3 separate regions of the Homo sapiens genome follow, and all the other regions are linked to region 1. The links come from fine-mapping of genetic effects on gene expression. A gene starts in region 1. Each other region holds a variant in brackets. All regions are shown on one strand. Distances are between the middles of the regions. Region 1 holds the start of USP53 (ubiquitin specific peptidase 53). Region 2 holds the start of LOC102723967 (a long non-coding RNA gene). Region 3 overlaps LOC102723967 (a long non-coding RNA gene).

Region 1 (7,514 bases):
CAACAGAGACTTGATTTAGAAATTTTCAACCAAAGTATAAGTTTTCAGAAAAATAACTACTTAATGATTTTTTTTTTTTTTTAGACAGAGTCTCACTCGGTCGCCCAGGATGTAGAGCAACGGCACAATCTCAGCTAACTGCAACCTCCGCCTCTTGGGTTCAAGTGATTCTCCTGCCTCAGCCTCCTTAGTAGCTGGGACCACAGGTGTGCACCACCACGCCTGGCTAATTTTTGTATTTTTTAGTACAGATAGGGTTTCACCATGTTGGCCAGGGTGGTCTCAATCTCCTGGCCTCAAGTGATCCGCCTGCCTCAGCCTCCCAAAGTGCTAGGATTACAGGCGTGAGCCACAGCACCCAGCCAACATTGTCTAATTAACTTTTGACTTTCTAGTGTTTAGCACTATGCCTAGCATACAATAGGAGGTCAATAATGTTTATTCAATACTTCTAACTCAGAAAAGCGCAGCAGTAAAAAACTTCCAAAGGAAGGGTATTTCTTAAAACTTCTTTTTTGTAATATGTGTAAAATTGAAAACTAATGTTATCTTCAAATTAATTCAAAAATACCATGACACCTCAAATAACTGATTTTGTTCATAAAAATAGCTAAGATATTGGAATAAGGTTTATTTTGCAGAAAAAATTCTGATGAACTGCAGAGTATATGAAGCAACTCTTCTGAAGTCTCATGTAAAATCATAATTCTTTAGCCAGATGCAATGGTTTGTAGCCTTTTCTTGTATCATGGACATCTTTGGTGGCCTAATGAAGCCCCCTATGAATAATGTTTGTAAATGAACAAAATAAAATTCATAGCATAAAAAAAAGAAAAAGAAAAAAAAATACTAAGATCACAAAGAAAACCAATTATATTAAAACTCAATTCTAACCACAGACCACAGTTCTAATCATGGGCTTTTGGTTCAACAATTCCTGATAGAGGATATGAGTTAACCTGGAAGAGCACAGAATATTATTTGCCTAAATATTCTATATACTGTACATGGTATCTATGGTATTCTTATTATTAATTTTAAAAAATGTATAACCTGCAAAGATTACAATATTACATAAAGCTATTTAAAATTTAACCTTTGAGGATTTTTACTTGTAGTAGAGCAGGTTGCATCCGTTTCTTGTTCCTATCATGTGCAAATACCATAATGCAAAATTTTCTAAAATCATCAGTATAAAATTAACAATATAATAATACTATATTTGTAACATCATTAATTTCTACCTAGCTCTGCAAAGATAACATAAATCAGCATACTTCCCTCCTTAAAACAAGAGCTCATGAGCAGAGTAAGCGAAACTGGCAATCATTTTGGCCCTAGCACACCTAGCACACTGTGTTAAAAATGCTTCCAGATGCAATATATAAACTACCCAACTTTCTACAGGTTGTTTTTGAGTTCTACAAGAAATACCTTACAGTTAAAGCTGTCAAAAAGGATCTTCTAAGTATTTTAGTAACCAAACATCTTTGTAGGATAGTTTATTCCATCACTTTATAAAGATCAACTGTGTTTTCGGAAAGTTGTAGGGTAAAGCAATGTACCCCCTCCTACCCCAGTAAGTAAGAGAGTTCCAAACAATTCCAGGAGGGAAAATAATTCTGATTTTGGCTTTTAAAGCTACATATAACCTTAAATGAGATAAAATTTTCATTTTTAAACTTTGTCTTGCTAAAACAAACTTGTAAACCATATGGTACCAAAGTTGTATTTCTTGATACTGCACAGTTTAAAATAAACATCTAACATTAAACAATATAAAAGAACTTGAATCACAGCACATATGGCAGGTCTTAAGAGTATTGTGATTTTTCTTTTTTTTTTTTTTAAGGAAAAGAATACACTAGTTGGAAAAGTCTACCTTCCCATTAAAATATCTTTTTTAAAACTATCTTATGCATTGTTTAGTGAAAATATTAACGAATTGATTATTAGTATCAAATTCCATGAACTTACACAATCTACATACATTTTTAAAAATATTTGTTAAAATTCTTAGGAAAAAGGAAAGGCCAGTTCTTAGTCTCTTTTTTACACGTTAGGAAGAAATACACAAACCTCCCAGTTTCATTAATGAAAAAATCTTAATAAATCACTTTCATGGTTTATCACCAGTAAACACGAACCTGCACAAATTGTATCAAGGAGCTTATTTTAAAAGCCTTTGAGATACAAAACAAAAACCTTATTTCTCAGACTATAATTAACTCCTACTTACACCGAGTTTGTCTATTTGGAATTCTTATGACAACAGCAGGTAAATCATATATTACTTTTGCAGAGTAAGTTTTGTTCCCTTTGGTTTTTTTTTTTTTTTTTTAATTTATCTTTAACAGGACGAAGGGTCTTTGCTTAGACCATCATCACGGAACTGAAAAGAACAGAAAATAACAATTATCAATGTAACTAAAAGTTCATTTCCAACAGACATTTTGTGTTAGCACTTGCTACTCATTTTAAATAGTGAAAATCAGCAAGCCTTTTCTTTTAATAACTAAAAGTGAATCAGATCTTAATCACAAAAACCTTCCTAAGTGTACTGCGTTTTTTTGTTTGTTTGTTTGTTTTTTGGAGACGGAGTCTGGCTCTGTCGCCCCTGCTGGAATGCAGTGGCGCGATCTCGGCTCACTGCAACCTCCGGTTCAAGCAATTCTCCTGCCTCAGCCTCCCGAGTAGCTGGGACTACAGGTTAAGTTTACTATTAAACCTACCTCAAAAATAGCCTTAGATATTCTTTGCAAATATATATATTTATACATACATACATACACACACACACATATATATATATATATATATCTATTTCCAGATAAGGAAACTTTCGGAAAACTTTGCTGTCCAACTGGTAATTCCCTGCATACTTTGCATTGATAAAGAAAACCTTGTAGCAGGGTTACAAACCTCAAAACATCCTCAGATTGCAGGTTTTAGAAACCCTCCCTATTACACCTGTGCAAGTACTTCCTGTTCTCCAACACTGTTTAAAAATAGTTTGGTAAATGCCCCGTAAGCCGCCCTTTAGAAGCTAAACATTAACTTTATATACATCACCACTACCACTGAGAAACCACCACCCCAAGAATCTCACGAGTCCAGTCATCTCTCTTCTCCAAGGAGGGAGCATAACCATCCTGGACCCCTTTAAGTAAAAAACTGTGTGCTCAGGCGAGGCAATGTGGCTTGGACAGCCAGGGGCAGGAGCCAAGTAAGGGTATTACTCACAATCCCAGCAGGACTCCAGCTTGTCGCCGCCCTCAAACACGGCAGCAATAACATCCAGGACCCAACAAGTACAGCACCTCCTCCCGCCTCGCGAGCGCCTCCAGCCTGGCCAGAGGCATCTCCGCCAGACGCGGCGAGAAGGGGCGAAAGGGCTGCGTGACCTCTGGCGTCTGAACCGCCCAGCAAAGAGAGTGTGTGTGTGCCCAGAGGGCCGGGGCCATAGGAGGTCGCCGGGCTGCGAGGGGAGAGACGAGCTCTGGGGCTAGAATGAGAGTGTCCCGGTCAGGCCCGCGGGGGTCGCAGGTCTCTGGATCTCCAACCAGAGGGCTAGTTTCGGAGACTTACCTTGAGCTCTACCCTCCTTGCGCGAGGAGCGTGCGGTCCAGGTAGAGAAATACAGGCCTTCCACTCCCACAGAGCTACCTCCCGCTGGCCCAGCCCCGCTTCACGCCGACACCCGCCAGACACACTGACTGCTGCCACAGTACCGAGGCTCACCGGGAACTGGAGCACAGGCGGCTGGTCTCCGCCGCCCAGAGCCCGACCCTGTGAGCGGAGCATGCGCATACGCCCCAATACCCAGGGACCAGTCAGGCCAGTGACACCTGCGATCAACAGGTCCCTGGAGCCCCGCCCCTCTCCCCGCCTCGAGCCCGCCCCTCGGAGCGGGCTCCGCCTTCACGCTCACCGAGGTAACTCCGCCTCCGCTCGCGATTTCCCGGCTTTCTGGACCTGCGGAATTCTATTCCCGCGGGGATTTGATGGCGTGCGCGATACAGTTGGCTTCCTCGGAGGCGCGAGATCGCGCGAGACCAAGAGATAGAACATTTCTGCAAAAGCGGCAGCTTGGCGCTGGAGTTTGGTTGTTGGGGGAAAGGTGGTTGTAGGACGTGCTGTCTGGTGTGGTGAGAAAGAGGCTAGTTCTTCAGGAGGAGGCGATTATTCTGGTGCTCTTGGTAGTTCATTCGGTATTTTCTAAGCTCAAGAACGCGGATCCACCAAGGACTTCACTTAGGTTAGGTGTTACCTGAGAGAACAATCCGTAGTTTGGCATCAGAACCCCATGCGGACACGCAGTTTCCTTTAGATTTCCGTGAGTCGTTAGACGATCTATTTGCAGTTAAATGGCTTCCTGTGGCGTGAATGTGTATTCCCCAAGCAGTTGTTTCTTGCCTTTAATTAGATAGCTTTAATAAGTCTGTTGACCTGGTTAATGATTGTCAGAAAAGTCTGTCCGCCTCTTTGCCGTGCTTTCGAACAGGTTTTAAGTTAAAAGGTACTGCTGGGAATTGGGCTAAACTTTGATTTTGAATAAACCTTTCTTAGGAATAGTAGTAAAGGAAAAACCCATCGTCACTGATACCGAATATCTCTCAAGTAAATAAAGAAGGTTTTGGAACTCATTCCAAAGCTGGTGTAAGTTGAACATACTAATTGTAAAAATGGATTTCAGTAAACCCAGAGGCACTTCTAAAAGTTTATTTGAAGAAAGAGGGGGAAGAAATATTGGTCGTTGATACAGGAGACAAATAGGACCCGTTTGTAATGTCTGAGGCTGAATCATTAAGAATTTATTGAGCATTTACTATGTTCCCTTTACTGAACTAGGCACTGTCAGAAATAGGATGAAATAAAGCCGTGGTTTCTGCCCTCAAAATATTAAAAACTTTGGGAGGGGTGGGGGAAAAAAAGATCCTACTCTGCATTTTTAAAACAATAAGAGCACACCATTAACTCTTCCCTCCGTTTCTCTAATGTCATTTTCTCCTCATTCTGCAGCTACTTTTCTGGTGCACTTTAAATACTGTTTTTCCGCTGCGTGGTCTCTGTTCGCCAGCACTCCATTTTCTTTTGCTGTTTCTGTTTAATGTTAATCCATGTCTCCTTGAGCAGTCTCTTTCCCATCATGGATTTACCTACCACGTGTCCTGTGCACCAAGAACTCTCAGGTGTATATCTATACGTCGGACATTTTTAAGCAACATCCTTTGGATTTCACACAGTATCTTAAATATGTCCCAAATTGACATGGACATCTTTACTATAATCTGTTCCTGATGCCATGTCCCTCTTCACCCATCTGGAACCTACACCATTTCCATTCCCTGTTTCAGAAAATGACACGCAACTGCCCAAGTCAGAAATCTATGAGTACCCCTGTTACTTTTCCTTCATTTCCTCTTTTCTAATATCAAATTTTGACTCTTATTTCCTTAAGTATCTCTCAGGTCCACCCCTCCACTCTCACTGTCTTAGTCCTTCAAGTAATCACCATCTCTTATGACTCATCTTCCTTGTACTATTGCAATATTCACAAGATATCCTCTAGTTATTTCCCACACCAGTCCAACCTCCATTCTATTAATAATTTTTCTAACGTGAAAATACGATCATTATACTTCTCTGCTAAGAATTTTTCATTACCCACCGGCAGGGCCTTTCATGATCACACTGTTAAACTCATCGCCATTCTTCCTCCAGTTCCTCCACATTAATCTTTCTAAAGTCCTTGCTTTCTATGTTCTTGGTTCTCTCAAGATCCTTTGGTTCTCTCTCGAATGCTTATCTCCATGGATCTTTTCATAACTTTCTGAGACAAAATTGTCATCCCTTTTGGGACTTATTTTTATAACAATTATGTTGTACTATATTTATTTCTCTGCAAATGTACCTGACAGAGTAACCCCCACCTCCACCCTTGAGAAATAATTTGAACTGTGGATAATAATGGCTTATACTACCTCCCTTCCTTATTTAGCAATTACAGAAGAATACCCTTCAGTTCACCCTGCTCAAGAATTTGACTAAACCCTGACTATACACTTTTAAAATTATATAATTTCATACTTTCTACCAGTTTTTAGCATATCTATGTACCGATCCTTAAATGGTAGAGTTGTAATAGGACCCAATTTAAGCATCAAGAGGGCAGAGTCTGAAGCAAACATGAAAAAATGGAAAATTGACATTGCAGGACAGCTGTTGCTCCCAGAAAATTTGTAATTGGGAAAGTCACAACAAGGATTTAAAATATTTTAATTCTTACTATTTGTCCTTGAGGGACGTGTGTGGGTTTGATTCCCTAGTTTCTGATTGGCTGGACCCAAATTTGTGAAGACCAATCTCTGCACCTCACACAGGCAAAGAGATCATGAAAGGGAGCAGGCTTGGCATGCCAAAGAATACCCTAGATCATTCAGCTGAGGCTTAGCCAAAGTTCACACCACCAGCACATATACACACCTCTTAGTGTTATTCTGGATTGATTATAACTCAGACTTTGAGAAATGTGCTACCCTGTGGCTAGATGCACCCTGCCACTAATGTCTGGTAGGAATAGCAACATTGTGTCCTGCGGAGCTGTAACCCAGTAGTTCCAGGAGGTAATCAACAGCTTAACCATGACTGAGCTGGGTGGGGTAGAGTGAAATATAGCATAGGGAAGTAGTAGATCAATGACTGACTCAGGGTTAGATACTAGACAGAATCCTTTTTTTCCTAAATGCATCCATAAGGACTGACAAGTGAATTTCCTTACTACCTAAGCTCTCTGTTTTTTCATGTTTCCAAGGCATAGCACAGTGCCTAGCACAGATGCTTAACAAGCAGTGTTTATTGGATGGAGTAAAAATTGGAAGTTTTGTTGATTTTTTTGAATAGAGTCATCTGTGTGGGCTAAAGTTGGAGAGGGCTTCTGTGGGAGATCAAATATGAACTTCAGCTTGGAAGGATTATAAGCAAGTGTATTTGAAGGCATTGAGGAAGATATGTAACTTAAAAGAGCAAAGTTTTAGAAACAGGATTGAACAAGGCCAGTACAGGACTACAATGGGAAGCCTTTGTAAGTTCTGGGGCAGAATGATTCATTTGGAATAAGGTACAGAAGAACTGTAGGGGAAACTATAGCTAGGCAAGAAGAGAAATCTCTAGGCTGTGACTCAGGGATGAGTCAACCAGAAAAATCTAGTCACAATTGACCACTCCCTCCTTGACATCTTCATCTCAATTCTTGTGACATCATTCCTTTATGGCTTTCATCCTGCCTCATGGGCTTCTCTTTCTCAGCCTCCTTTTCTCTTGTACTTTTCAATCTGCTTTAAATGTTGATGTGCCTTAGTGCCTGATCCTGAGATGTCATTTATCCTCATGGTTTTAAATCTATTTCCCACACAGCAGCCAATTAGTCTTTTAAAAATATTGACATGTTACTCCCCAACTTAAATTGTTCAATGACTTTTCATTCACATAGAATAAAATCCAAAATTCTTGCC
Region 2 (7,514 bases), 120 kb after region 1:
TCTTTCTTTCTTTCTTTCCTCTCTCTCTCTTTCTTTCTTTCTTTTCTTTCTTTCTTCCTGATGGAGTCTCGCTGTGTAGCCCTGGCTGCAACCTCCGCCTACTGGGTAAGTGATTCTCCTGTCTCAAACCCCCGAGTAGCTGAGACTACAGGCGCCCACCACCATGCCGGGCTAATTTGTGTATTTTTAGTAGTAGAGACAGGGATTTCACCATGTTAGCCAGGCTGGTCTTGAACTCCTGACCTCAGGTGATCCGCCTGCCTCGTCCTCCCAAAGTGTTAGGATTACAGGCATGAACCACTGCACCCAGCCCTGTTTTCTACTGGAGTTTTTCCATCATCATAGAAACATGCTATGCTTTTTTTCTCACATCAAACAAAAGCAAAATACCTTGCAAATAGAGACAAGCACAATAAAACACCTTCTGTGGTCCTTTTCTTTGCTCCCTTTTAACATAAAAATTTGTCTACACTTGCTTTCTTCAGTTTCTCTGTACTGCTCCATGGAAACTGTTTATTGTCATGGTCACTAAGTTGCTTAAGCAAGAATCTTTGAAGTCATCCTGGACTTCCTTCTTTCCTTTGCACTCCACAAACTATGGCTTACAGGACAAATTGGCCTGTCATGTGTTTCAGTAAATAAAGTTTTATTGGAACACAGTCATGGCCACATGTTTGTCTTTCTGTGACAACTTTTGCATTACAATGGCAGAGTTCAGACGTCCTAATGGGGACTGCATGGCCCTCAAAGCCTAAAATACTTACTATTTGGCTTGTTATAGAAAAAGTTGGCCAGCCCCTACACTAAAATATAAATCTTACAAAGGAAAGTGCTTTGTTTTGTTCCCTGCTATATCTCCAGTGCCTAGAAGAATACCTGGCACTTAGCAAAGCTTAACAAATACTTGCGGCAGAAAGGAAAAAAGAAAGAATGAATAAGTAGTCTACGTCACCATCTTGTTCTTTACTCTCTCTTATTCAATCTTTGTCGGTTCTCATTGTCCTTTCTCCATTTTCCATAAACTCTCTCCTCGGATTTGTTTCTTCCATTAAGCTTTTTCTTCATGCTCATCAAATTTCCAACAGGAGGAAAAGTCCTAAAAATTGCTAAACAAATTTTGGAAATACGAAGCTTAAGTTAGAGAAATTTTTCCTTTGGCAATAGTATTAAAAATGTGTTCATCAATGGGAACACATGGACATAGGGAGGGGAACATCACACACAGGGGCCTGTCGGGGGAGGGGGCTAGGGGAGGGATAGCATTAGGAGAAATACCTAATGTAGATGATGGGTTGATGGGTGCAGCAAACCACCATGGCGCGTGTATACCTGTGTAACAGACCTGCACGTTCTGCACATGTATCCCAGAACTTAAAGCATGATTTTTAAAGAAGTGTTCATTTTTTCTTTGCTAGTGTCTGCATTGTTGAGTTCATTTTGGAGAGAAGACTGTCAAGAGAGAAATGATATTTCTTTTAATAGGTACTCTTGGCAATTTTTGCTAATAATTTTAACATTTCTTTTACCACATGAAGTTTGATTTCTATAGAGTAATCCCCTTTTATGTTGTGTTGATGGGCATTTTTTATTATTGATATATAATATGTTTACCCTGTCTTCAGTTTTTGCTCATGAGACTTTATCCAAAAACTAAACTCAACTGGCACATGCAGTTCTTTTGATTTCACAACTTACCCATGCCGGAGATACTTCCCATACTAACTTTGATCTCTTGCAGATGTGAAACAAAACCCTATACTAGATAAGTGAACTTTCAGTGTCCTTACTTAAAACAAAAGAAAATAAATAAAAATCTCATCTGGATCTGATTATTCCCAGGTGACTAAAAATTCTGTGAACCTGTGGAGACTGGAATGTACTGGCAAGAGAGAGCCTGGGTTATCTATTGGAATCTTGGATTCTGTTTTTAAAATAGGAGGTTAAAGCTCTAATGTGTCCAAAAATAATCTCAAGTGTGGGTTATTACTGCTCCCTTTGAGGGAAATTCAAAATTGCATAATATCAGATAAAAATAAAAACATGTGGCTCTGAATAAACAGTTATTCCTGTGCTATTAGTGGATGCATCAACACTGACCTGTCAGAGATGTCCTGATAAGGTCATTTTTGTGAGTGGTTTTAATACCAAGAGAACTTCATGGTTCCTAGGTCAGTGTGATTTGCTGCTGCCTTATCATGAGTAATGAAGAGGATATTTGATGCTTCTCTCTGTCTCTAGTTCTGACTTCATTTATTTCACTGAATTCTGAGGTTTACTCCTAGCAGGTTTCCAGTTCACTTTCAACCTTCAGCCTCACTGAGAGAGTGCTATATAGCTCCTTAGTGATAATGTACTTGGGTCTTATAATTAGTGATGATGGCAGAGAAGACATTCCTGATGAGGATATTTATTTCTAAATGTCTAAACAAATTTCTTAGTTTATTTCAAAATGCAATATATGTAAATAATAAAAGTTTTATCTTTACTAATTATGGCAGCCCTAAGTGCCATCGATGTATCTTAGTTTTCTAATTACCGAGCTGGCAAAGACAACTAAGATAGTGGAGAGTTAAAAGATTAATCCTACACTGCATAATGGAAAGGATTAATTTTCACAGTTGCTTTTGTTTCATTTTTGAGTTCCAATAAATTCTTTATTCTTATTTCACATAAATTTCTGTATACTACAAAAGATAAACTAAATTTACTAAATCTACTAACTTTATTAAATATATTCATTATTTTTTGGTGAAATGGAACCTGCATTTTACATGAGAGCATGCTATCTTTGAAAGAAATCAGTTCCTTGGAATCAGGAGATCCAGTCCTGAAAAATGGTTCTATTTTGCGATGTTAAACAAGTCATGTAACTTCTCTGAGACTTGGTTTCCTCATCACTAAGAGGACAGGGTTGAATTGGGGAATCTCTTTTCCCTTCCAGCATTAATTGTCTCAGACTCTATTTTAGGCCTCTGGAGTGTGTGTATGGAAACAAATTCACATGCTGAAATCCAGGTATAAATTTCTACTTCTCTTTTGTATTGCTTTCTTTCAACATTTCCTTCAAAAGAAGGATAAAATTACATCTATTTAGCTTGTTCATCTTTTGTTATCCCAAAGGCACACCCAACCATGGGGTCAGTGAGAAAATGTTCAAACATTTGTAAATAATCAATTTTCCTAATGTGAAGGCCAACTCAGCAGAGTCCTAATCAGGGAAAGGCAAAGAAAACAGTCCAGCCTTTAAGAGATCCAAATTTGGATTCTTTGTTAACTTTATCTTCTTTATTTCTCTTTCTTCTACAGCAGTGTTTACAACGTTATGATGTACAGCAATGTTACAGAAAAAAAGTGGAGAAAGATAATGCAACTACCTCATTGACATATACATCTCAGCATAATGATTTAAATACTGTGACTTTGTAGTAGGCTGATCACCAAGCAAGGTGATCCGGCAACTTGACCCAATATCAGACTGCACAAACTACAAAGGGTAACCTGGTGTATTGGGTGCTCAAACTAAGCCTATTGCTAAAACAACTTAAAATGCAAATTGAAAAAAAATGAATTGTGTCCATGAGCTAGAACATGCAGGCTATAAATTAAATGAAGGTGGGGACCTAGAGAGGTAAGCCAAATATCAGAATACATCTTCTGAGAGTATTTCCTGCCGCAGAATGAACTTGAACTTTAGTTTGTATATCTTTGCAGTTTTATGGGGATGGAAAACAAAGTCTAGGGCTTGCCTAGTATGGGAAGCTTAATAAGATACACACCCTCTATAAAGTAAAGACACTAGAGAACTATATCCTTAGTGATATACAAGGTGAACTACCAATAAACATGCATGTCCTGTGCACATTGCCCCTCTCTAGGTATTTCAAGGAAAACTGCCTGTATTAAACCTTAGTAATAAGCAGAGTTGAGAAAAAAATCCCCTGAGAATGTCTAACCATAAACTAACTTTCATATGTATTTGAAGACAGAATTACCATTACCTGTGGTGGCTTGAAAAATCTTAAGCCAAGAGTTAGTTTCAAGTGATCTTAGGCTGATAATGTAAAGACACGTGACAGAAACAAATGAAAATCCCTTCTATTGGAACCCATCTTTTCCCCAGGTCTTAAAGAGTTTTCATTAACAGAGCCCTCCCAAAATGAGCAGCTCATTGCATATATATATATATATATATATATATATAGATAGATAGATAGATAGATAGATAGATAGATACATACACACACACACACACACACATACATACACACACACATGCACACACACACAATACATGTATGGATTGAATAGTGGATTAGACACAGCTCACAAAAGAATATAGTAGCTCTGAAGATACTATCCAAAATGAAGTTCAATGAATAAAAGAAAAGAAAAGGAAAGAATAAAGGAGAGGTTAAGAGACTTGGAGACTAGTATGAAGAGTCACTAACATAAATCTAATCAGTGTTGCAGAAGACAGAGACAATAGACAGCAGCAGTTTCTAAAAAGATAATGGCTGA[T/G]CTAATAAAAGACACCAACCTACAAAATCAGGATGCTTGCAGAAGCCCAAACAGGATGAATAAATCTATAGAACAAATCTATACCTAACTATATCATTGTGAAACTGTAGAATACCAAGATAAAAAGAAAATATGAGAAGCAGCTCGTGTACTGAATAATCAGGTGGTAAGCATTTTGAGGCTGTAATAATGGGAGTTATGAGAAAGGGGTAAGAGAAAAAAGAGATTTAATAGGTTTCATATTTACCAACATCCTACTATGTACCAGGAGGCCTTGATATGTACCAGTTAATTCTTTGACAATCCTATGATATGGATGTAAGTATTATAGGTAAGAAACTGAAACTAAAAGACTAATTTTTCACGATCATAAAGCTAGCAGTGGTGAAATTGGGTTTCACATCCGTGTCTATTTGCCACCAGAGCTTGTGCTTTTGTTTTGTTTTGTTTGTTCGTTTTATGTAGAAGGAATAAGAATAATAAGCAAGCAAATGAAATAAAGAAAGAAATTCATTGCAGCATCTTTTTTTTTTTTTTTTTTTTTTTTTGAGACGGAGTCTCGCTCTGTCGCCCAGGCTGGAGTGCAGTGGCGGGATCTCGGCTCACTGCAAGCTCCGCCTCCCGGGTTCACGCCATTCTCCTGCCTCAGCCTCCCAAGTAGCTGGGACGACAGGCGCCCGCCACCACGCCCGGCTAATTTTTTTGTATTTTTAGTAGAGACGGGGTTTCACCGTTTTAGCCGGGATGGTCTCGATCTCCTGACCTCGTGATCCGCCCGCCTCGGCCTCCCAAAGTGCTGGGGTTACAGGCGTGAGCCACCGCGCCCGGCCTCATTGCAGCATCTTTTATAAGGCCCTCGCAGTCACTGGAAAGGAGAGAATTCTGAAGTTAACCATAGCCTGGATAAACTTAACAAAAGCACAGAGGATCCTTAGTATGACAGATTTAGCATTGTAGGTTTGTGACATCTGAGGTTAGCCGCAAAGGCAATGACATATATTAGTTTATAGTGAGGATAGTTAATAGTAAAGCGTATGCTTTTCCTTCATCTGTTAATTCAACAAATGTATACTAAAATTCCAGTTGGGTTAAGAACTACATGCCTCCTTTCATAGACAGTCTACTAGGGGAAATGGATTAGCAAATAAGAAATTACAAGATGTTGAATGTTAGGTAGAAGCAAGTAGGGGTACTGTGGAAAACATGTAGAAAGCAGACAGTTTTGTTCGGGGTGGGAGGTGGGAAGGCACGTTCAGAGAAGGCTGGAAGCCTGAAGGACAGTGGTGAAAATTAAATGCTCTTGGCACAGCTTTGTGTTGCAAGGCTGCTTTGAAGAGATAAGATGGAAGAAAATGGAACATGTTACCCAGCATCTTTATTTCAACCAGGGCATAGCTTGCTCGCCACTAGTGTTCAGGTAACATTTGGTGGGAAGAGGACTGGCCTCACTGGAGACTAATTACACGAAATGCCAAGAGTGTCTTAGTGAAGGATGGATCCTAAGGGAACAGGTAGACAAGGTTTTCCCAGTTTTAAAGCTTTGAGGATGATGGGCTGGTGGGTTTTTTGAATATGGGGAAGCATCTGTTACTTGTCTACTTGAAATTTTTTTTGGTGTTTGTAACCCCCACTGCCTTCTAAGGAGGCTGGCCTTTGGGAACAGGAGGAGAGGAGCAATGAAGCAGGGCACCCTTGAAGGGAAAGAGGGAGACCACTGGTAGTAACGTGGCAGGAAAGAGGAGTCTGGAGAAGAGAAATGGTGAAACGTCCAACAGGAATTTTCAAGTGGTCATCTGTGGGATATGGGTTGTTAACTGTCTTGTCTTTTGTTTCCATAAAATCTTATGTAAATCGACATTTCTTGGTAATATCTTTTTGTGAAGTGGATTAATTATTTTGAGGGAAAAGCAGATGTTGGGAAGCTCAAAGAGAAGGATGAGAGGACAGGAAAAATCTGGATCACCCTCGACCACGACCTGCTGGGTCTCCAGTAGCCCCCAAGGATCTCTTAAGTCACCAAGGATATTTTTACAAATCTGGGGAGAAGATGGTAAAGTTAAAATGGCCCTTGAGTTAAAACTGAAAAGGGTTTTTTCTCTAAAATCTCAATAGGACATCAGGATAGAACTGCTTAACCTAGATGCCAAATTAAGACACACAATGGGGAGAGAATCATTCTTCCCTCTTTGGCCAAACGCTAGGCATGCATTGTGGAGCAAACTCACCATTGTCCCTTGCATAGCAAGCCGTAGCACAAGTTCTGGCAGAAGAGTTGTGCCTCTAACCTGAGTATGTCAGGACATCTACTTTGGGCATTTGGATTTGCCATTTTTAGCTTGGTTTTAAAAAACAAGAAAATATCAGTACAGAGAGGTTAAGAAAGTTGCTCAGGGTCACTAAGGAAGGAAGTGACACAACTGAGATTTGAACCCAGGCTGCCTAACTGCAGAGTCAGGCTCTTCACCACCATCTTAGATTGTGACTAAGAGGGTAGCTTCTAGAATCAGACACCTGGGCTGATCTCAGGCTCCACCATTACAGTTAATAGACTGCAAGCTCCACTGAAGTATTCTACTGGGCAAGGCGAGGAGAATTTCTGCTTCATTCATCACCGTACACTCAGCAGCTGTTACCTGGTAGGTATTCAGTGAACATTTGTAGAATAAGTAAAATCAGATGTATCACCACATACATAGGATGTCCTCACTAATCTGGACTAGAATTCTCAACTCTGTACATGTCAGTAGAATGTACAAGCCAGAGCAGGGGTATTTAAAATTGTTTTGCTTTAGAAGATGAAACCGAATGATCACTAATAGACTCACGGAGATTAAAGAATCATGACACACCACCTTTATAGATGAGCAAACAGACTCATAGTGATAAGGGACTCTCCTAAGGTCACAGCATCAGTAAGGGCCAGAAAGGTGTTAGTGTAGAGAGAGAGAGAAAGTTGGAAGTTCAGTTCCAATCGGCTTTTTTAAAATGTCAAAATC
Region 3 (7,514 bases), 98 kb after region 1:
CATAACATGTGTTCTGTATGATATCAGTTCTTTGAAAAATTTAAGACACAGCCCATTTTTGCAAGTGTTTTTTTGTGTGTGTTGGAAAATAATGTATATTTTCCAATTACTAAATGCAAGTGTCTGTATATGTATATCAACTAAATCAAAGTTGTTGATTTTATTGTTCAAATTATTTGCATCCTATTGGTTTTCCTTACCTACTTTATGCATTAATAGCTAAGAGATATGTATTAAAAATTTCCCACAGTGTTGGTGGATTTGTCAATTTCTCCATAGGTTTTAAAATTTATATGCAATTTATTTTGAGGCTATGATATTAAACAATGTAAATTTGCAAATGTGATCTCTTTTTATTATATTCTTTATTTTTATAGAGTTCTCTTATTAGTATTTTTTTCCTTTAAAGAATATTTTGACTGATATTAATTATGGTCATATTACTTTTTTTTTTTGGTTAAATTTGCCGGGTTCTCCTTCTGAAACTTTGATTAGATATTTTGGACTTTCTCACTCTATTCTTCTTGTGTCTTCAACTCTTTTAAAATATTTTGCATCTTTTTATCTCTATTGCTTTATTCTTTTTCTTCTTTTGCAGAAGAACATTCCATTTTATTAATTCTCTACTCCATTGTATCCAAGTTATTTAACCTTTACATTGAATTTTTACTTTTAATTATTATACTTTTTACTTCTAGGAGAACTTTGCCCTCAAATTCTGCCTGATTTCTTGCTGATTAGTCATATTTTTACCTCTTTCTTGTTTAAAAAATTTTTTTCCTTAAACACATAATTTTTCTAAAAAATTTATAATATATTCCCTATATTTGTACATTTCCAATATTCAAGTTTCTGTTGTTTATTATTTCTGTGACACTTGCATGCAATGGCTTAGTTCAAATGTATTTTGTGATTTTTTAAAATTGATTCTGAAGTTGTATTCGCAATAAAACACAATCCTTTGCACTTTTCTAATAAATACCAAGGTTGTGGATTCATTTCTCTAGGGAAAATCTGTGTTTCTTTTTGCCACATGTCTGCAGACATTACAGGTCTGGAACTAGTTTAAAATGAGTCCAGAAAGGAAAACTTTCAGCTTGTAATTTTCCTTACCATGTAAACAGTGCAAATTTTGATCCTAAATTCATGTCTGGACTTTCCAGTGGTACAGATTCTCAGGAGAGCCTTTTCTCCCACAGTCAAATCTTTGCCAGACACTTTTGCTTGCTGCCTTCCTGTGTGAGGGGTCATTTGTTTACTTATGTTGTTCTAGTGAACTCTTTTCCATGTGCTGACCTTCCTGCGCATGGCTTCTGTGCTGGTGGTCACTAATGAAACTCTCTGCTCTCTGAAAATGCAAAGTTCCCGGCAGCCTGGATGTGTGGGTACTCCCAGGGAACCCAGTTGCTGCAGTGCTCACTTATTTCCCTAAATTTAGATTCTTACTTAATTCCTGAGAGCCTCTTCCATTCATTTTAAAAGAGCTTTTAATATTTTATCTAACTTTTTTTCAATGACCTAAGACATGAATTTTTCTTTTATTTTTCCAACTTGCATTTAAATACAGTTGGAAAATAGTACAGATATTTGTAGGAGATACCATTTTTTTCAGTTTGTTACCAATGCTGAGTGCCTTAATGAATTGTGGATCTCTTGAAATGATTCCAACAATTGTCAGAATGGATGAACTTTCAATGGCAGATTGATTGGCATCACTGTTAAGAGGCACGTGAAAACCCAAAGCTAGCACTTCGACTAAGTGACGCTGTTAGCCTCTGGGGTGTCATGCCACTCTGTAGGGCTTGCTTTTTCTCATCTCGAATTGCATTAGTTTATCAATTATATCTTCCCAAGTAATATGTATTATAGATGTTCTAGGATGTATTAATCTTTTTGATCCCTAGGTGTTGTCTGGGACTACTTGAGCTCCTGCTAGTCACTTTTTTGAGTTTCTAGCAGTCTCATGTCATTACCCCAATATGCCATACTAATATCATTTTTCCACATGTACTCTTATAAAAAAGATTAAGAAGAATGGTCTAGCAGATCTTTTAACAGTCTTTCTGTCTCTAAAGCTGTTCATTCTAAAGATTCTATTAATGCACTTTTCTTCTCTGGGCACTTACTCATTGAATGAGCATATTGTATCCAAGAGAGAAGCGGATGGATTTTAGAGTTGCTTTGAACTGAAATCTTCAAAAGGAGTCACATATCTTTGTTAATGGGAAAAATCTTAAGAATTTGGTTCAAAATGACTTGGTTAGAACTACTGACGCCATTCTAGGAAAACAGTTGTGATGATTGGGACCAGCCAAGGCCCTTTATGGCTCCAAATTATATTCGCTCATAACTACTTCCATTGTGTTAGTTTACCTCCTCACTTGTTTTCCATGAGCGCAATATTCTAGAGGCAACTTAGAGGTCAACTTACGTGCCACATGTCCTTTCCTTTCTTTTTTTGTTTATATTTAACAGTGTGCTTTTGTCTTGCTTTATGTTTTCCATCCCTCTGTTTCCCTGCTAGTTTGAACAACGTGAAGAAGCAGAGCTTGATTTTACTTCCCCAGGATGCATACCTATAGAACATATCAAAAACAATGATTGGCTTTGCTAATACCTGAAAGTATGGAGCCCAACATGCTCTACTTCTGATTGTTACTAGCATGATTCTGAGTCAGGCTTTAAGGAGAATGCTTAATGCTCAACAACCCAGAGTTCAGTCTGGCTCTGAAGTAGCATTGCTTAGGCTGGGATGTTGTGTGCTGCTCAAAAAGCAGATTTCTGTCTCCACCTGAGTCCTACTGAATCTGAATCTCTATGAGCAAGAGGTCAGGGGATCTGCAGTTTTACAAAACTGTAGTTGTAACTGTAGGGACTATTTCTCTGGAAATGCAAGAAAGAGCAATTAATTTGTCTGGAAAATAGGGAAAGGGTTTGAAGAAGACATTACAGAAGAGTTTTTGTTTTTGTTTAGTTTGTCTTTGAAGGATGAATCAAATAATTGGCTGATGGGGAAGACCGGGACAGGATATTTCAGTCCGAAGGAGGGGCATGAGTAGAGGTGCAAGAGTGAGGCTCCGTGGCGTATTTTGAGAGCTGTAAGTGGTCTAATGTGACTAGGTTGATGCCTGAAACAGGATGAGGGTGGAGATAGGAATCACAGAAGGCGGGTCTGAAAAGCAGATTAGGACTGAATTGGAAAAACTCTTGAGTGGTGAGGAATTGCATTTTATTTCATAGGCAATAAAAGCCATCAAAGATTCATGATTAAAATGTAGGAAGATTTTCATTTTATAATATAACTGTGGGCCAGGCGCGGTGGCTCACTCCTGTAATCCCAGCACTTTGGGAGGCCGAGGCGGGCGGATCACGAGGTCGGGAGATCGAGACCATCCTGGCTAACACGATGAAATCCCGTCTCTACTAAAAATACAAAAAATTAGCCTGGCATGGTGGCAGGCGCCTGTAGTCCCAGCTACTCGGGAGGCTGAGGCAGGAGAATGGCGTGAAGCCGGGAGACCGAGCTTGCAGTGAGCGGAGATCATGCCACTGCACTCCTGCCTGGGCGACAGAGCGAGACTCCATCTCGAAAAATAATAATAATAATAATAATAATAATATAACTGTGACAGCAATTCAGGGAATGAATTCAAGGGAAATGAAACTAGAGGCAATGGGACCACCTGAAGATTATTAGAATAGCATGGAAGAATGATTTTAACATGGTAGCTGGGGAAATGGAGGAAAAGGGGATAGATTTGGGATCATTCATTGACTCAACAAATATTTGTTACTGTTTCATACATACTGAGCCCTATGCTAGCTACTAGAAAATAAGAAAAACAAATCATGAACTTCCTAAGATGAATACAATTATGTAGTGTGTGTGTGTGTACGCATTCATACGTATGAGTACAAGAAATATTTTTTACATAATGGTGTTCTCTTTGTGGAAGAAATAAATAATTTTGCTTTTCTTTATTAGACATTATTACTTTTTAAAAGTGTCTTTAAATAAATAGAATATGTTTTTAAATTTTTATAATTAAAAAATTTATATGATTTTTCCTCCAGGACCCTAGCTAGAAGACAGATTAATAGTTCTTGATTTAACCACTCTGTTACGTAGCTGTTCAATAATTTATTACATGTTCAAGGTCAAACTGATTATTTCACTCTTTTCTAAACTTTCCCTTATTCTTCATCTTTTATTTGAATGTTTCATAGCTACCCCTCCAACCACATCTAAGCAGTCACCAAGCCTTATTGATTTTTTTTAGCTCTTTATCTCTTTCATGAGGTTCATACTCATGTATACATCGGCATGAACTCTTAATCTAGATTACCTGGGCTCAAATCCCAGCTTTCACATTTGCTGAGTGCATCCCCACGAGCAAATTATTAAACATCTATGATTCTCAGTTTTCTCATCTGTATAATAGAATTAATATCAGTTCTTGACCCATAGGGTTGTTGTGAGGATTAAATGAGATAGTTTATGAAGGACACTAAAAGTAATACCCAGAGAGTAATTAGTGTTAGTTATTATTTGGATTATTTAGGAAAAAGAAAGGATTTTAGTCTTAAAAGATAAAAAATGTAACTTCATGAAACCCTTAAGAAGAAAAAAAAATGTCTTTGTTGCTTAGTTACCATAGAGAAGGTAACTTTTTACTGTGTTTTGATACAGGGATAAAAATGGTGCAAAACAATTAGAGTTTTCAATA[A/G]GAAGCATAACTAATATCCCAGTCATGTCTTCAGAATTTAGCTGACAGTTGTTGAAACACAGGTTGATAAGATAAAGAGCAAACCTAAGATGTTTCTTAAGACAGGGCTCTATTGTGTCCATGAGGACCATGAGGCTATTTTGCTCTTTTCCAGGCATAATAAATTATTTTGGATCTCTGGACTAGGAACTATGAGGACACATTCTCATTTAATGTCTTTAACCACTGCTTCCATTTTCTTATGACTAAGCATTGTGAAATCAAAAAGTTAACCACCTACAGGAAGTAGAAGCCTGGAATATGGAGTTTGGCTACATCCTCTCACTTGCTAGTGAGTCATATTGTTTATATCCTTTTTCTTTCTTGAGAACAATTGCAAAAAAAAAAGGTAGTTAGGATTTCCAGGTTTTTGTGATCTTTTCTTTTTGGATAGAATATATAAGTGGATTTAAGAGAAACAGGTGACTACATCCCCCCCACTGTCCCCACTGAGAGAGTAAATGTATCACATGGTCTGATATGTAAATCTAACTCCTCTGGTGATAAAGATGCCAGCTGATTCACATATCTTTTCAGATTCTTATTATTCTTAGAAAAACTAATTTTTCAGTATTTACTGTACAACAGTCCTTGTTCCAGGTACCTTACAGATTTTAATGTATTTAATATGCACAACAGTCCGATTAGTCCTAACAGGAGGTACTAGTATTATATACCCTTTTATAGATTAAGAAACTGAGAAGTAGACTAAGAGGTTTGCCCTAGTAAGCAGCAGTTTGACTCAAAAGTCCATGAGCTTAACCTGCTTTAGTGTATGCTGGTTACTTTAAAAGAATTGATAAAATAGTATATTGTGATAATTAAGCATATGTATGTGTTTTAAAATAGCTTGAAAAAAATATGAATAAAATATAGTAAGTGCCTCATTACATGTCTTTAGTAAAGAGTGTACAAAAACATTATACTTTTTAAAAGCACTTTATATATGTTATCTCATTTGATACTCATGAAAACCTTACAAGTAAAGCAAGGAAAAATCCTTTTGTCCCCATTTTAAAATGAGAAAATTAGATTCAACAAGATTAAATTACTAGTTTAAGTTTGCAGAGTAAAGTCGGGATAAAAATCTAGATCTGTCCAGTGTTCTTTCCATAAGACCATCTTCCTACTTCTATAAATAGTAACTCTACAGTGCCTTCACAGGGTAGAGGAGGCAAGAAACGAAATGTGACATTTTTAAAAAAGAGTTTTTACTGAATCATGGAAAAGTGCAAACTAAGGTGGACACTTACTATTCGTATTGTATATGATCCCAAACCTGACTTTTGAGAGAGGAGTTGTTGGATCATTTGATTTTATTTTTAGGTGGGAACTAAAAGATCCAGTCTTACCTGTTACTGTTGTTGTTGTTAATTTTCTTGAATAAATTTAAATGTAATTCAGAGAAGAATAGAAAATTGTGTTTGATTTTATTAGGGGCCTTTCCAGAAACTGACCCCTAGTTGTTTGTATCTGTTATTATTCAATGAGACTAGTTTTAATTTTCATAATACTATAACTGCTTGTGATAATATCATAAACTAGGACAATTTATCCCTTCTGCTTTGTTTTTTCCAAATTCACAATATCTTTTAGAAGTTCATCACTTTGCTCTGCTACACATGGTGTACTAATCAAATTCTAGATTTACTCTATTCCAGAACCAGGCTTTCCAAGTTGCTATTTAGGTTCAGTGGGCCACGTTCCCTCTAGGCATGGTGCTTTTCCATAGGTTACTCTGAATGAGAGGACAATAGATATGTTCGAGGTTGTTTTAGAAATCTGAAAAATAAGTATCGGAGAAAATGCATAAATGAGATATACAGAAAGGCAAACAAGTGAAGGTGGGGACTGGAGAGTAGATACAAAACTAGAACTATTTTGCTGATTTTCTCTTTCTGAAGAAAGTCAAATCATTACACTCTCACAGGGCTTGAAAACATGGCTCTGGCTGGCAACCAGGGGTAGACACACTGTGAAAACATTTGCTGCTCTTTATTCTTGAGTTGAATTTTGCCTACAGTGAAGCAGACCACAAAATGAAGGGAAGGTTGGTTCATGAAATTACATAAACTTGGTCTATTTATTTTTTACCTTAATTATCTTGGAGCTATTCCAAGCATAATGAGAACCTCAATGGTCTTATAGAAAATAAAGTTTGGGCCTTGAGTTTGGGACCACATTCATTCATGTGGTAAGAGGTGGGCACTGGAGCATAAAGGTGACAGTGGATTTTCTGGTTGGTGTTATGGTCCCATGTACACAATCACCCTGTAAAATCCTTCACTTTGTAAAGTGAATGGGCCAATCCTCTTTTTCACATGTGCTTCTCAGCATGCTGCCTTTTGTAAATTTTTTGGTTATTCTAATGGCTTTCTTTGATATTTACTATATCTCCTATACAAAAATTGTGGTTGTTAAGGAGGGGGAGAGAAGAGGACTTTTAGCTGAGTGTGATGGGAAACTCAATCTTCCTAATCCGTATCCTCCCATTAGTAGTCCTATGTATGTCTTCCTTAAAACCAAGGAAATTCTCCATTTTCCCATATTTTATTTAATTTTCTCTTTCTTCTCTGTGTTTTTATAGCTCTTAATTCATACTTCTGATGTGGAATTTGGTATCTAATATATGTTTTATGTCTCTACTGCTTGATAATCAGTACTGTATTATATTCATCTTTTTCTTTTTGTCTAATGCCTAACAAAATCCCTCCTTGTATACAGTAGATATCCAATCAGTGTAAAATG

Evidence for each region. PIP is the estimated chance that this variant, and not a neighbour inherited with it, causes the effect. A credible set is the group of variants that fine-mapping cannot tell apart.
Region 2: its variant is the best candidate, but not a certain one, in a credible set for the expression of USP53 in unexposed skin (GTEx, PIP 0.64).
Region 3: its variant is the best candidate, but not a certain one, in a credible set for the expression of USP53 in tibial artery (GTEx, PIP 0.89).

The regions. Positions count from the first base shown.
Region 1 is chr4:119,208,948-119,216,461 of GRCh38, reverse strand. USP53 (ubiquitin specific peptidase 53) reads right to left here and starts at 3,749. Exons shown (of 19, transcript NM_001371395.1): 1 at 3,589-3,749; 2 at 2,240-2,392. It overlaps LOC101929762 (a long non-coding RNA gene), which reads left to right and starts at 3,818. Exons shown (of 3, transcript NR_125931.1): 1 at 3,818-3,935. RefSeq lists enhancers at 3,355-3,404, 3,110-3,683, 4,015-4,134, 4,257-4,831, 5,987-7,186 and a silencer at 3,755-3,884.
Region 2 is chr4:119,093,932-119,101,445 of GRCh38, reverse strand. It overlaps LOC102723967 (a long non-coding RNA gene), which reads right to left and starts at 1,314. Exons shown (of 3, transcript XR_001741422.1): 1 at 1,276-1,314; 2 at 953-1,106. The variant T/G (reference allele first, on the strand shown) is at 4,519.
Region 3 is chr4:119,110,918-119,118,431 of GRCh38, reverse strand. All of the region lies in intron 2 of LOC102723967 (a long non-coding RNA gene), which reads right to left. It overlaps LOC105377395 (a long non-coding RNA gene), which reads left to right. Exons shown (of 5, transcript XR_007058251.1): 5 at 1-319. Among named protein-coding and RNA genes, the nearest start is that of MYOZ2, 21 kb to the left of the region's middle. The variant A/G (reference allele first, on the strand shown) is at 4,728.